Regions from separate parts of the Homo sapiens genome. Here region 1 is linked to region 2. A link means that fine-mapping ties the variant in region 2 to the expression of a gene that starts in the linked region. Tissue or cell type: whole blood. Region 2 holds a variant in brackets; the other region holds the start of a gene. All regions are shown on one strand. Distances are between the middles of the regions.

Region 1 (8,107 bases), 180 kb before region 2:
ATAGCTGAACATAATTCCAACTATTATACCCCTTAAGGAATTAAAAAAACAGCTATACCTCCTGGAAGGATCAAGTGGATGCTAAAGGAAGCTCAAATCTATGTCTGTCTTTTTTTTGTTTTGTTTTGTTTAACAGCAATTCATTCTTAATATACTGGCCTTTTAAGCTGGAGTCTTACAACTACTTGAGTTCATATTTGTAAAAAAGATGTAAGAGGATATATTCTCTGATTAGCCAATCCTGTGTTAACTTTAAAAAAAATCAAATTTCATAAATAGAAGCAGTAACATATCCCTTATCAGAATAGTTCCACTGTTTACTAAGTCCCTGTAGCTAAGTACAAGCCCCAGGGCTTAGCCCAAGTCCTGATCACTATGTACACAGAGTCTGTTGTGGGTTTCCTCATGAGTTCAGTAGTGTGAACATTAGCGTGTGACATCCTCTGCTCTGCAGAACACAAAAATAACAGGGTCCTCTGGGTATCCAACTTTCCTTGACAAGATTAAAGTAATGTCTAAAGAGCTCTAAAAGTGTCACAAACGATCTATAGACATCATATTTACATTTGTTCATAAAGATACAGGGCTGCAAAGTCACCATAGCATAACTTCTCCTTAAGAGTGTGAGACATAAACACAGACCTAATGTTCTCATGACCGCCCCTACCCAAAAAAGGTATCTCTGTGTTGCAGAGTCACACTCTGTGATGGATTGAACGTTTGTGTGCCCGTCAAATTCATATGGTAAAGCCCTAACCCCCGCTGTGGCTATATCTGGAGATGGGGCCTCTAAGGAAGTAATTAAGATGAAATGAGGTCATAAGGGTGGGTCCCTGATCTGACAGAATTAGTGTCTTATAAGAAGATACACCAGAAAGTTCTCTCTCTTTCTCTTCCACGCCTCTTCATCTCGAGTATGTACCGAGGAAAGGCCATATGAGGATATTGTGAGAAGGCAGCCAGCTGCAACCCAGGAAGAATGCCCCTCACCAGAAAGCAAATTGGTCAAAACCCTGGTTTTGAACTTTGAGCTTCCAGGACAGTGAGAAAATAAATCTCTGTGTGTAAGCCACTCAGTCTATGGTATTTTGGCTGTGTCAACAGACTAATACACACTCCAAAAAAAGAGTGTGTAGAAATTTTTGTTTCAGCGTCATTTTCAAATTGTCCTCTGCTAAAATCTACTTTAATCCCGGCATGGTCATAAGCTGGTTTTACACTCTAGACCTGCTTGAAACTTAAACTTGGCTCACTCTCACGGGTGATTTTTAGGTTCGTTGGATGCTGCAACTCCTATGACACACAGAATGATCAAACATGGATTCCTGGGACTTGGGACTTTTGGTACTAAAGCAGGGAAAGTCCAAGGGCACTGGACAAGTTGGTCACTCTAGATAGGCAATACATTCTGTTCCTCCAGCTATTGCTCCATCTACAGCTATGGCTTCTCTAACAATCCATACCATACAGATTCTCTCCATACACAAGAGTCAAAAAGGTCTCAGGCCAACTTTCTCTTTTTTTCACGTGGCCCACATCTGCTGCACGAGAAACACTCAGGCATCATTTGCCTTGACAAACTACGGCAGTGACTACAGATCCCAACATAGCAACTTTCCTTCACTCCTATGCCAAAATTCTCACTGGCCCATCTCTCCTACCCCTGGGATTTCCCAGATGTGAGTCACGATACTACTGTACCTCTCAAAACCCAGGAAATGCATGTCAAGTTCTCTGAGTATTGCTATTGAAGCCCCCTTCACTAGACTTGAAGGTGACTGGGGAAGCATATAACAATGGCTCTCCCCAAAACTTCTCCTCATAAACTCATCTCTTTCAACATCTTCTTTTAACCCATGAAACTGGTGAAAGGTTCCAATAGCGGCAAAACCAGTTCTTGGACTGTGGCTGCCAATACAGGGAGCAAAACTGATCAAGGGCTCTAGATGCTTGCTGCACTCTGAATTCCCTGGCCACATTTTCACCCATGGGCTGCTCCAGCCGGTGACTGAGAGCAGCACAGATAATAAGGCAGGCTGGCTCCTGAAAGAAGGACTCCTCTGACAGGTGATTTTGGCTTGAGGATTTCCAATAGCCTTTCTAAATCTTGCTTAGACTGTTTGGCAGTCCAGGAAACTTCCACCACCCTTCCCTCTCTCTCTGCTTTACTCAATTTCAGACTTGCAGCCTCTCCCAGTCTTGCTTGGCTCCCGCCCATTCTCTCTCACAGGTGTTTCCTCTAATAAAATTGTTGCACATTTAATCCCATCATAACAACTTCTCATCAGAGCCAGACTAATGTAAAGACATTTCTTTGGAAAACATGCATCTTGTCAGCACCTCACTTTGGCGTTTCATAGTTGTTGCTTTATAATGCTGCAGGCAAAACTTCCAGTTTATAGTTATACTACTAACCACAGGATGAATGAATGACATGGTAAGATAAAAAAACAGGAAAAATGATGGGATTTTACTTTACATTTCTTGTTGTTCAACCCCTCCATTTTTGTTAAAATATATGTCTAATTTGAATGCGCATCAAGATGAATTTTTAGTAAGACTTATCACTGTGGGTGCTGAGTATGTGAGCAGGAACATCATAGATGCTAATTTACCTTTTAGTAGGCAACCAGGCCTGTGCCAGGACTTGGATAAGAAGGCTGTTACATGCTACCCTGGAGTTCCAAAGTAACCCCAATATCACCATCTGTCTTTGTTCCTCCACATTTTCTTCTTCCCGTGATCCCTTCTCATTTTTCCTTTCTATCTTCTTTTACTTGTTTTGTCACTGCTTTAGAAGTCACTAATAAGCAATAGTGGGAAGTAGAGTATGTGAATAAAGAATGAAGCTTTCTTTGGCAGTCTGAAATAAATTGCTTAAAACTGTACCCCAAAGCAGCCAGAATAAAAATAGCTTTTTATATTTGTTCTCCACCATTTCAAGTATCCAAACGCCCCACATGACTTGACCCCTGCAACTTTGTTTTAGGGAAGACTTTTGGTGGTAGCATACTCTCATACGAAAGTGTGTGAAAAACATCAATTTGCTTTTTTACTTTTCCTGTGAGGATTATAGAACCAAAACAAAATATCGAAAATTTTGAGAATACACTGACTCACAAAAATCCAATGCTTTTCTAGTCAAACAGGATTTCTCTACGTGATTTGTATCAAGGACGGTCATTTATCAAAATGTGACAACATGCCTTTGCCGTCATTATAACAGCAGGCAATTAAAAATGTTTTTACCATAGCCAGTTTGCTTATTTTTCTATTTTAAAAGGGTTTTATAGCAGATATGCAAAAGAGAAAGCAGAGAGAAAAAAATAAAATCACTCTCTATTCAAACACTATCACTGTTAATTTTGATGTATTTCTTGTGTTTTTCTAGGCATAATTTGTTTTTACAAAAACATAGCCTTAGTGGCTAGTCCCACTTTATTATGTGAGTACTGGTCAATGCAGAAAGAAGACTAAACAAACTACAGATTGGTTTTCAGTCATATTCTAAAGAAACAGAAGCCAAACAAACACTTGGTCTGGTGGAAAGTCCAAGATTATGGTCCTTGGCCCTCTGTTAAGGCCAGCTAGAGTATCTGGTGATGGTGAGAGGCCTCCAACTGTCTTAGTCCTGGATTTAAAAGGGCCTAAACGGAGCTAAAATGTTCCCCAGAGCCTAGCAATCATTGACAGTTTCCTCAGGTAACCAGCGCTGCAGACGGAGAATGCTGCAAAGGCAAGGTGTCAGAAACCAATTGAAATCCGAGGTTCAGCCAAGGGGACCCAGGCACACACGTGGGCCTTGTGTTCACCATAAAGAGCATACTGGCTACAAGTTGGCCCCTCTCTGGGCAACAGAGTGCCTAACTTAAAGGGGCTTACGAGGATGCCATGCGCCAACAGCTCTGGTTTTACAAAATGGAGTCACCAGGGAGAACGCGGTGTCTGGGTTAGACCACGTTCACCAAGTACCAGCTATACGATCTCGGACAAATTTACTTGCCCTCTCTTAACCTTAGTTTCCCCATATATAAAATGTAAGTGATACATTTCTGACTGCTGGGATTGTAAGGAAGGGATTAAATGGCTTGCCAATGAGGTGTTCAGCACAATGCCTGCCTAACACGTAAAACGTGTTGGGGTTGGTTGGTTGTAAGACCCACAACCTCTCTCCCCACTCTACCCCCGCCCCGCCACCAGCAGCCCAGCTGCAGCCGCTTCCGGGAACCACTTCGCTTCGGTCTCCCACTGCCGAACGCGGATCCCTCCGCGTTGCGTCACTTCCGGGAGACTCTGGCCGCGGCGATTCAATATATCCGGAAGCAACTGTCATGGCTGCTGTCAGTGAGGGCCCGTAATGGAGATCGAGTCAAGGGTTGCCCAGGGACACTTAAGAGCCTTCGGCTTCAAGGAGGCCTCTCAAAGGACAAAGGATGAGACTGCCTGGCGGCAGAGTGCCCCCCACAATCGTAGGAACTGTGTCGCCGCGCTTCCCGTTAACTTGCCGCTAAGTTTTTCTAGAAAAGTCGCCCTTCTTGCCAGGGTGGGACCTCACTTCTGACCTAGCCCTTCTTTGTGTACCAAGTTTTTGTTTCCGTCATTTCCCGCAGCCCGGGAGCTCGGCGGGCGATACTGTGGTAGCCTGGGAGGAAGGGGCGGGCCGGATGCTGGAACCGAGAGAGGTGGGGCTCGTCGAGGAGTCACGGGCGGCCGAGGCTGGAGTCTCCTAAATGCAACCTTGAGCTGTTCCACCCTTTGGTGCTTGGTCTGTTAGCTCGAGGTGCTCCTCACCGTGGAGGCGTTTAGAGCTGGTCATAAGGCTCTTACCTGCTGACCCAACCACCCTCAACCACAGCTTGCCCTGCTCCAGATAGACTTTGATCCTAGAAAATATCTAAGATGGGTGTAGTGCAGTATGTTATTGTTTTAAGTCTCAAACATAAGCAAACTATTATTAAAAGTTTTAGAATTAATAGGCAGAGTTCACATATTGGGTCGTGTTATTGTTTTAAGGTTTAAATTTAGATAACATGTTAGTACTTGTTGAGATTTTAACAAAAGCATTAAAAAAATGAGAAAATAGATTAATCTTTAGAATATTTTAAGTTTGCTACTGCGCAGTGGTAACATGAAGACACCTCATAATAAGTCTTTGATTACCAGAAGCTTCTGAAAGTAAAATTATGGGTATATTAATGTGAGTTTTCCTCTCTGCAGGGTGTCCTATAGACTTTGTCATGGAGTGAAACAGAAACAAATGTGAGTTAATCATTAACATTTCCTAGTGGTTAAAATTACTTTTTAAGCGCTTAACTGTGTATTTTTTAGATTGAAGATTTCAAATGAAATTTTGATTTGACTGAAATATTTAATATGTGATGAGTTGATATTAAAATACAGAAGATTACTATTTTTATAGAAACAATAATGTAGAAACTAATATTTGAAGCAGGTTTACTCCACATACTGTGTTATAATTTAAATTTTCACTTAAACTCTCAAAATCAGAAGAGCTGACCTAGTAAGGCTTAAACCTCTAAAACTTGTGGTTTTAACAAGGCTTAATATACGTAGTTATAATAGTTTTTAAAAAAATTGTTATCAAGTTCCTCAGGTGATTCTGATATAGTATTTTAAAGAAAGCAAAGAGAAATGATCTGTTTATACATTTTAAATATTTTGTTCCTTATTTATGTATTGAGACTGTGCTTATAAATGCATTCACACGCATTGAAGTACATAATTTGATCGTCATGCCAGCCTGGAATCTTGCTTTTTGTATGGTTTCTTGCAGGTAGGTCTATTGGGTTCTTGGCATAGTACCTGGACAAAACATTGTTAAGGTGGAAATTTTCATTGTATTTATCACTTCAAACACTTGACCAGTTTATTTAGTTTTCAAGCGCTTTAGACAACTATATGTGGGCTTGACTTAGTGTATAATAAATGTAAAGTTTGATCTCAAGTAGTTGACATTTATGGAGTATTTACCATATGCCAATCTTTGTGATAATTGCTAGACATATTTTATTTAATGCTTACAGCAGTACTGTGAGTTAGGTTTGTTAAATCCCTGTTTTAATAGATGGAGAAACTGAGGCAAGGACGGATTAAGTTACAAATCCGTCTTTGTAACTTAGAGCCATCTTCTTACCTACTTGTTTTGTATGACACCCTTTTCCTCCATATAACTGAACACTGGTAGAAGAGTGAATGACTGTAGAAAACAGACCTGGACTCTATTCTACCTGTCCAGCTTTGTAAACTAGGGCAAGTTGTGTGACCACTCTGAATTTCATTTTCCTCACCTATAATAAATGAAAACTTTGAACTATTATGTTTTATTGAATCTTGAATCATCAGAAATCCTTAAGGCTGGGTGTGGTGCTTCACGCCTGTAATCCCACCACTTTGGGAGGCCCAGATGGGAGGATTGCTTGAGGCCAGGAGTTTGAGACCAGCCTGGTCAGTCAGCATAGCGATATCCCATCTCTACCACAAAAAAAAAAAAAAAAATTCCTTAAAATGGTGCCTTTACCATCAAACCTGGGATTTTCTTCCAAGCCCCTAGTGCTCATTCTGAGTTTTGAAGTTTTGATGCACGGCAGTGCCAACTCCATCTCCATTGCCGTCTAGTCTGATTACATTGTAAGATGTGACTGATTTCAGAGATGTCAAAATGTAAAATAATGTGCATCTTGGAACTAATGAGCTCTTTTTCAACCCTGACTCTGTAACATCTGTGACTTTTTAACATTTTATTGCAGGATTAAGTATTTTTGAATGTAAATGATTCAAGATAACACATAGACTTCGTTTGATGACATCTGCAAAATAAATTTTTAAAAAATTTGGGCTTCATGATAATGGAAAAGTAGAAACTATGTTTGTCTTTATCACCTGTGAATCCCCCATATTGAGAACATGCCTGGCACATAGTGAGTGTTCAGTAATCATTTACTCAATGAAGTAAACAAGTCTTCATTTCTTTTTTCTTTGTTTGAGACAATCTCACTCTGTTGCTCATGCTGGAGTGCAGTGACGCTATCTTGGCTCACTGCAACCTCTGCCTCCAAGGCTCAAGTGATCCTCCCGCCTCAGCCTCCCAAGTAGCTAGGACTACAGGCACACACCACCGCACCAGTTAATTTTTGAATTTTTTTGTAGAGACAGGGTCTTACCATATTTCCCAGGCTGGTCTTGAACTTCTGGGCTCAAGCCATCTGCCTGCCTCAGCTTCCAAAGTTCTAGGATTACAGGCATCAGCCACTGTGCCCTGCCACGTCTTCATTTCATATTACAAATACAATATTAAAAAATTGTGTTTGACTTGAATTAGACATAAAATACACAGTCATGCATCGCTTAATGACAGGGATACATTCTGAGAAATGTGTTGGGTGATTTTGTTATTGTGCGTGTACTTACATAAATCTACATGGTATGGGCTACTACATATCTGTATGGTATGGCGTATTGCTCCTAGGTTACAAACCTGTATAGCATGTTACTGTACTGGATACCATAGGTGGTTGTAACACAATGGTATTTGCATATGTAAACATGTCTAGACATAGAAAAGGTACAGTAAAAATATTATAACTTTATGGGACCGTCAGTGAAATGTCATTATGTAGCACATGACTGCAATAGTATTAATAGTGTAAAACTATTTTGCACTGAAATTTTTTGCATTCAGAAGTTCACTGTTGTAAACTGTCTTTCTTTCCAAATATCTTTTCTTCTGCTGATTATTGCTGATTGTCATCAAGTATGGGGTATATTTTGTTCCTCGAAGAGTTATAGTAAAAATTGAAATGCTGGCTTATAGACTTTCCAACAAAGAATCTGATTTATTTTTAAAGTGGCCAAAGTATAGGAACATTATTTAATTTTTAGAAATCTTGATTGTAAAAAAAGTTTTAAAAATGTGATTTGATAGCTTATTTAATTTTTGTGAGTATTCTGGAGGTGATTAGGCATACTATCTTTCCTAGTATACAAATAATATTGAATATTTCTGAGTTATGAACAATAAAAATAAACTACAATTGAAATTATGTCATAATTGAAATTATGTCAGTGGGCAGAAAAGTGTTCCAAGTTT
Region 2 (8,107 bases):
CCTTATTTTTTGAAAACTTTATATATCCTTGCCCTCTACCCTTCTACCTCTGTGGCCACTTATTTCTGTATCCTTCAATGGTCATACCTCTTCATATCCTAAATGTTGGGTACATTCCAAAGCTTTGGAGGGTGCACATATTCCCATGGATTCCCAAATCTGTGTCTCCAGCCTTCACTCTCCTAAGCATCAAAATCATATTTCTAGCTGACTTCTGGTAATTCTAGTTGAATGTTGTATCATCAACAAAAATTCAGTATGTTAAAATAAGCATTTCTTTTCCAGTTTTTATAAACCTCAATATTCTATAGGTAAACTATTCTAGCAATGTTAAACCCTTTTTAGAATGATATGGTTATAAGTTTCTTTTTAATTTTAATGCTAAAAAATATAATAGCAAAGACTCCTGAAATAACAACTGTACATGCTAACCAAACTAATGTGCAGTTGGAAATCTCAAGCTTTCTAATCACAGTAAAAACATGAATTTGTGTCAAAAACCAAAGCAGGCTATTGACATGATCACAGTTAAAATATCATAAAAAGAGCCCAGTCTATAAACTTTCCGAAAAAACTTCAAAATCTACTATTCGTTCTTGTACCACTATTAAAAACTACTGAATAAGGTCAACACAGACTACAATGTTCCCTTACATCTTATTCAACCTTCAGTACCTACCTCAAGACAATAAAAAATACCTAATTCTACTCTTGACCAGGGGATAGCAACCCTTAAGGTATGATGGAACAATTCTGGCAAGTAACTGATAGAGGGTCTCCCTTATTAGTTCCCAAATATCTTGCCCACCATTCCCAGAATCCTGTATACTTTTTCATAAGTTCTCATTTCCATCTAGAAGGTAGGGATAAAATGTGAATCTTAATTGCAGTTACTCTAAGAGACATGTAAATATTGCTCCTATATAGATTTAACTCACTGACAAACATCTTTTTTAACAAAGCAGGGAATGGCTTGTTGGCTAGGTGAGAGAACATATAAACAAATAGATATTGAAGTAAGAGATTAAATAAATACATACATAAATAATTCATCTTATTAAATAACTTACAGACCAAATAAGAATACAATTCATCCCTAAACTCTCCTATTGTTTCTTTTTTTACATATGAATTTATGATTTGTATATAGAAACAAATGTATCACATTTATCAGGATTATCCCCCATTTACAACAGGGCTATTTGGAATAATCAAAATATTATAAACTCCATTAATACCTTACCTTTTTAAAAATATCTTCTCTTTGAGATTTTTTCATGATGGTCCTTTTATTTCAACTTTCTAAATAAATAAGAAATATTATTGAGAATGACATATCATAAGAAAACTGACTTGTGATACTTGAGGTTAAAAGTATGCTTTTTAAATTTTTTAATTTAACAAGAAACAAAACAGATATACTATCACTTTTACTATTTCATATTTGTATTTGGTCACCTTCAGTATTTAATAGAAATCCCGGTTAATGCAATAAGATGTGCAAAAGAAGGAAGTAAGAGGTGTAACTCTTGGAAGAGGAAAACAAAATTATCATTGTTTGTAGATGATAGGTTTTTATACATGAAAAACCCAAAAGACTAAATAAAGTTTAGACATAATTAGAAAATTGGAATTGGCAGAATACAAGAGAATATATGTAAAAGTCAGTATCTTCCCTACATGCTAATGTACTAGAAAAAAATCACTTTCACAAAAAGGGTACTGAAAAAAACTTCAAGATACTAAGGAATTATTTTAATTAAAATATGTATGAATTCCCTTCCCCCCAAAAGTATAAAACTTTGCAGTAAGAAAAAAAAGGATCTGATTAAATATACATTTGATCTTAGCCAAAAGGCCAAGAGGCAATGATTAAATATAGATATTCTATGGAGGCAGGGAAATTGATTAAAAGGCTACTAATAGATACTAGAGATCTATTTGGATGTTTGTCTCCTCCAAATCTCATGTTGAAATGTGATTCCCAATAATGGACATGTGGCCAGGTGGGAAGTGATTGGATTGTGGGGGTGGATACCTCATGGTTGGCTTAGCACCATCCCCTTCATGATGAGTTCTTGCTCAGTTAGTTCACATGAGATCTAGTTGTTTAAAAGAGTCTGTCTAGGACCTCCCCCCTCCTTCCTTTATTTCCTCTCTTGCCATGTGACATGCTGGCTCCCCTTCCCTTCCACCATGATTGTAAGCTCCCTGATGCCCTCACCAGAAGCAGATGTTAGAGCCATGCTTATATAGCCTGCAGAACTGTGAGCCAATTAAAACTCTTTTCTTTATAAATTACCCAGTATTCTTCTATTGCAACGCAAGAATGGCCTAATACAAGAGTATCATTCAACATGACGGTTAAATGCAAGTTCATGCAATTCCCCAGACATTTGTAGAAACTAGAATGCCACACAAGTTTTTGTTTATCTGTTTGTTTTTTAGAGACAGGGTCTCACTCTTTCACCCAGGCTGAAGTGCAGTGGCATGATGACAGCTCATTACAGCCTTGAACTCCTGGGCTCAAGTGATCCACCTGCTTCCACCTCTTGAGTAGCTAGGACTACAGGCATGTGTCTCTAAGGCTCGGCTAATTATTATTATTGTTATTATTAGGTACAGACAGGGTCTCGCTGTGTTGCTCAGGCTGGTCTCAAACTCTTGGCCTCAAGCAATCCTCCTGCCTCAGCCTCTCAAAGCATTGGAATTATAGGCATGAGCCACTGCGCTTTGCCTAAACAAATTTCTAAATCAATTCTGCGGGCACAAGACTATGTGGATCCCTGAATCAGCACAGACTTCTTTTTGGCACAATTTTCAGTCACCTTGGTTACTTCTGTCACAGGCCATTTGGTTTCAGGAGTGCTAGCAAAATAAAACCACAGAAAAACCTCTAGCATGTGGAAATGGTTACACAATGCATATCTTAGTATATAGTAACATATCTTTAATTGTGATCCAATCAGAAAATTGGTTCCCTTTAATCTTCCCCTGGCTCTTGTTAGAAATATTTCTAAATGTATTAATGCACTTTCCTTCCTTAGCAGATCTGAATTCAGACCAAAATCCAATTTTATCTTTATCTCAGTTCATCTATTGTCACATAGTATGATGACACCTTTCTGAACTCTCTTATAGCAATGTTTCCTAAATGATGCCTTCCAGACTTAATTTGAATTAGGATGCTATGTCCAGAATTAAGGTCTCATTCACAGTTATGATGTAATTAAGGCAACAATAGCATTTTGTAAAAATAATCTATTAAATATATAGCACCAGCTACCCTTTATTGTTATTAGGATATGGAAGAAGTGGAATTTAACTTAACAATTCTTTACTTAGTTAAGAGGAATATAGCAGTATTTCACAGTGTTCTACAAAAAACATTATGACTTCCATGTATTGCATTAACTGGCAAGTTTAAAAATTAACTTAACTGTTATCTTGTTTTCCAAAATCAAAACTTAGGAACAAACGGCGTGACAAAAGATTTTCTGATCTGTGAATTTATTTAAGTCTTCGAAAGGCAACAAAACTAAATCACCCACTGCTCTGAGGACCAGTTCCCAAGTCATCATGTCCTGCTCCTGTAGATCAAGAAAGATTTGGGCCCACTTCTCTATCTTGGGACTTCTGGTACATGAAAACTAATGTGGAAACAGGTTACAAAAACTATCATATTATATTTTGAAAATTTACATCTAACACACACCATGCAACGTAGTTTTGCTACTCAAAGGTGAATTACAAGATTTATAAAAATGTATTAATTCTTAGAGCAACCACTGGCCAGGAGGCCCAGAAGCTCTAAACAAGTACTGTAATGTTTTTTATTCAAACCTGAAGATGTATCTCTGTGTCTATACTTATAGCCTCAATTAGAGAGAAAGTCAACCAGGAGGCCCTTTCTGAAAGTGAAGCCAAAAAACTCTCACATCACTTCCCCATCTAAGCCGCAGTGACCACTCTCCAACATTGACCACTCTCCAACATAACCCCTCAACTATAGCTGGATGGAGTTCTTGTTTATTCTCCCTGGCATCTCCAACCTTTAATTTTTACAACTTCCCCGCAAATGGATAGCATTCCGTGTTTCTAAGGCTGATTCAAACTCCACGTCTTTCAGGAAGTTTTTTCTAACTCTGTCTCTTGATCTCCAACAGCATTTGTAGTTCATAATGCGAATTTTTGTTCATTACATTCTACCTTCCAAGTTCATCTTCCTGCTTATCCTAATGTGAAGATCAGGACTAAGGCAAGGTGTTCAGCACACACAGTAGGCACTGAATTAATAATATGCCGACCCGTATTTCTTGCAAATCAAACACTGCTCTCGAGTGATTTTCAATTCTACTCATTCCCAAATTGGCTAACAAACCGGTCGGCCAGGCCCCCGAACTACAAGTCCCAGCGGCCTGCGCGGCCCCGGCTCCGGTTATCCCAGCCCAGCTAGTTCTGCCCATGCAGCAGAGCTCCACAAAAGTGCGGGAATGTCTGACAGGGAAGAATCAGAGAAACCTTCACCAGCAGCCCGACATTCACCTGGACGGACAGTGCACTTTTCTTACGTCTGGGCAGGGAAGGCAGGGCGCACCATCTACCGCAGGCTAGGATGATCACCAACCGCCCCACCGCACCCTGCGCCAGCCCTAC[G/C]GCGCCCGCGGGCTGCAAGTAGCGGCGACCCAGGAGCATGCGCGCTGCCGCCCCTGGCCTGCCAGGACCCAGAGGGAGCGGAGCACGCGCCTTTGGGAATCTTCGGTGCGCCAAGTCTGTTCGCCGCCGGGGTCTATCACCCCCGCCCCTCGCCTCTGCCCGTGAGCGTGTGAGTTGTAGCGTACCCTGGGGTCTGTTCTGGAGGAGGCCTGAGAGCGGGGTTGCCTGGGGCGTGGGTCTCTCATCCCTCTCGTCCTGGTGAAGAAGAAGAGTATACCCAGCGGGTGAGTACCGGCCGCGAGCTCCCGGCTGAGCGGGCGTCCCCGGGGAGGACGCTGCGGGGCGCCGTTGTGGCAAGAGCGGTCGCCCGCGCAGGGCGTGGAGGCGCGAGGCCGGGGGACGCCAGCCGGCAAGTTGCACGGGTTGCAGCGCCCCGGGACCTACTTTCTCTTTGCCGTCGTCCCTGCCTTGCTAGGAAAAGAGGGGAGCTTTGACTTCAGGTGATTTCCTTTGTGGCTTACAAAAGAGCCCCCTAAATATGCAAGCGGTTCCTTTTATTTCCAGAGCTTGCTGTTAGCGTACTAATGTACTATGTTTAAAGTCTTAAATAGGGCATGCCAGACACGCTCACCCATGTGTCGTCATTCATCGCTTAATAAACAGAGTACGGCTCTCATTGTTTTTCTTTTTCCCATTGCCTCGCTCCGAGTTAAAATAACGAGATAAACTAAACGTGATGCGGTTGGGAACTTGTTCAGGGAAACCGGCTGGGGCGAACTTCGGAAACTTGCTAGTGTAGAGAGCCGCACGGTGGTGGTTTGTATGCTTTCACTCATTCAGGCTTTCCACAGTGTTTAACTGCGTTCTGTGTCAGGCATTATGCCCCAACAGTCGTCTTGTGTAAGACTTCCATGCATTTTTAAGCTTTGCTTTTATTTTCTAAATGTACATGTTAATAGAGAATAAACATTATTGACCTCTTTATTCTGATATTAATTGCCTAAGTTTCGTAGGATTGTCTTTATTTTTTAATAGTATGGTGACCAAAAGTAATACTAGTGTTTAACCTTAGTAAGCAAAATAGAGTCCCAGTGTCTCTGACAGCTTGGCACAGTTTCATTTGAGACCGTAAATCCCACCCTGTCTATAGTCTCTGTCATACTTGGTAACAACCCAGATAATTTATCCCTTCTCGCAGCCTCATTCCCACACCTTCTCCATCTGCTGATCGTCTCACTATCTGCCTTCTTCTGGAAACTGTAAACTCTTTTTCTAGACTCCTCATATGTAAACCCCTCTATATCTTTTTTTAAATTTATATATATATATATTTTATCATACTTTAAGTTCCAGGGTACATGCGCACAACGTGCAGGTTTGTTACATATGTATACATGTGCCATGTTGGTGTGCTGCACCCATTAACTCGTCATTTACATTAGGTATATCTCCTAATGCTATCCCTCCCCCTCCCCCCATTCCACAACAGGCCCTGGTGTGTGATGTTCCCCTTCCTGTGTCCAGGTGTTCTCATTGTTCAATTCTCATATGAAATACTATGCAGCCATAAAAAATGATGAGTTCATGTCATTTGTAGGGACATGGATGAAGCTGGAAACCATCATTCTCAGCAAAGTATCGCAAGGACAAAAAACCAAACACCACATGTTCTCACCCCTCTATGTCTTTATATCTTCTTGTTCACAAAACATTCCTCCTTGTGATATTGGGTACCTGGCTGTCTCCTGAAGACACTGCTTTCCCAGCAATTCACCACAGCGAAAGCCATGCCTGCTGGAGACACTGCTTTCCCAGCAATTCACCACAGCGAAAGCCGTGCCTGCCCGCGCCCCCCGCCCCCCAGAGGTGGTATCTGTATTCGCCATCTCCTCATGGCCATTGCTAGGCCATTCCATCCCACCCCAGGACCCAGAGCTGGTATCTGTATTCGCCATCTCCTCATGGCCATTGCTACGCCATTCCATTCCACCCTTGTAAAACTTACCAGAAACCCTTCTCTAATGAGCCCTTTTCCCTCTCCTCACTGTTATTTACCAGCTGCCTGGTCACTCATGTTCATTAAGGAATTTAGTACCCAACTCAAGTCTTTTTTTTTTTTTTTTTTTTGAGACGGAGTCTCTGTCAGCCCAGTTTGGAGTGCAGTGGTGTGATCTCAACTTACTGCAACCTCTGCCTCCCGGGTTCAGGCGATTCTCCTGCCTCAGCCTCCCGAGTAGCTGGGACTACAGGCGTGCACCACCACGCCCAGCTAATTGTATTTTTAGGAGAGACCGGATTTCACCATGTTGGCCAGGCTGGTCTTGAATTCCTGACCGCAGGTGATCCACCCGCCTCGGCATCCCAAAGTGCTGGGATTACAGGCATGAGCCACTGTGCCTGGCCAGTCTTTCTTTCATACTCAATTGCTACAAGGTTCTGGGGGGACTAAAGCAGTCATGTGTATCACAGGTCCAGCACCCCATATTCCCTTAACTTACTGCCATGACTGACTGACTGCAGGACCATAATATCTAAGACTGTTCCATATTAACAATCACGAACTCTAGTATTCTCTTCTCATCTTCCTGTTTCTTTCATCTCTTCCTCTGCCTTATTCTTCTATACTTAATCCCTGATCTCATGAAGACGCTGTCCCTTGATGACTATTTTGTCATCATCAGCCTCTACCTACATTGACTTTCTTCCTTGTCTAGCCCACACTCCTTGTTTTATTATTTACCCACATCAGTATCCACAATTTCTTTGCCTTTTGTGTTTCTTCCACTTTTGTCCAGCATACCTATTCTAGTTTAGTCTAGCCATTTGCTTTCTCTCCTCATATAGAAAGGTAATTGTATTAGTGAAAATCATGTAACCAGATTATTGCCATGATGATATGGCATGGTCCATAATGTAGCTCAGCCATTCTTTTCCTTTCTCACCCACAGCTACTATTCTAACTTTTATCGTTCCTTAAACCTACTCTACTTTTGACCTTGTACTTTCAGCAGCTGGCTTGGCTTTTTCAGAGGAAACAGAGACTCTCAGACATGAATACTGTGACACTGACCACCAGGCCAACTTAACATCAGCAGATATCCTGTCTCAGATGAAGAGGTATGTTTGATTTATTTCTTTTTTTTTTTTCTATCTACAGATGATCCAATATATGTCCTAGATCCCATTCATTCTGTCTCCTCTGGGGCCTTATTTCATCATTTAACCCTCCCTTTTTATCTTCAGTATACCCTTTCCCCACCTCCCTCCCCTGGCTTTATCTGCCCTATCCAACAAAACAAAAACAAAAAGAAAAACCATCAACTGGGATTATTCTCAGATTTCTTCTCTCTCTCCTTTTTTACAGCCACATTTAGAGAAAAAGGTAATCTTTTTTTCCCTTCCCTTACTTGTTAACTCTTCTACCCACAGAGTTCTGGCTTCCGCCACCTAA

Evidence for each region. PIP is the estimated chance that this variant, and not a neighbour inherited with it, causes the effect.
Region 1: ENTPD1-AS1 starts here. The variant in region 2 is fine-mapped to the expression of ENTPD1-AS1 in whole blood (INTERVAL, PIP above 0.99). The same link has a PIP of 0.9 or more in CD4 T cells and blood mononuclear cells.

What each region holds. Positions count from the first base shown.
Region 1 is chr10:96,086,418-96,094,524 of GRCh38, reverse strand. It overlaps ENTPD1-AS1 (ENTPD1 antisense RNA 1), which reads left to right and starts at 4,290. Exons shown (of 6, transcript NR_038444.1): 1 at 4,290-4,543; 2 at 5,218-5,259. RefSeq lists enhancers at 4,141-4,190, 4,201-4,570.
Region 2 is chr10:95,904,496-95,912,602 of GRCh38, reverse strand. CC2D2B (coiled-coil and C2 domain containing 2B) reads right to left here and starts at 4,628. Exons shown (of 35, transcript NM_001349008.3): 1 at 4,546-4,628; 2 at 1,244-1,302. The coding sequence starts at 1,279. All of the region lies in intron 2 of ENTPD1-AS1 (ENTPD1 antisense RNA 1), which reads left to right. RefSeq lists enhancers at 4,312-4,371, 4,412-4,601. The variant G/C (reference allele first, on the strand shown) is at 4,657.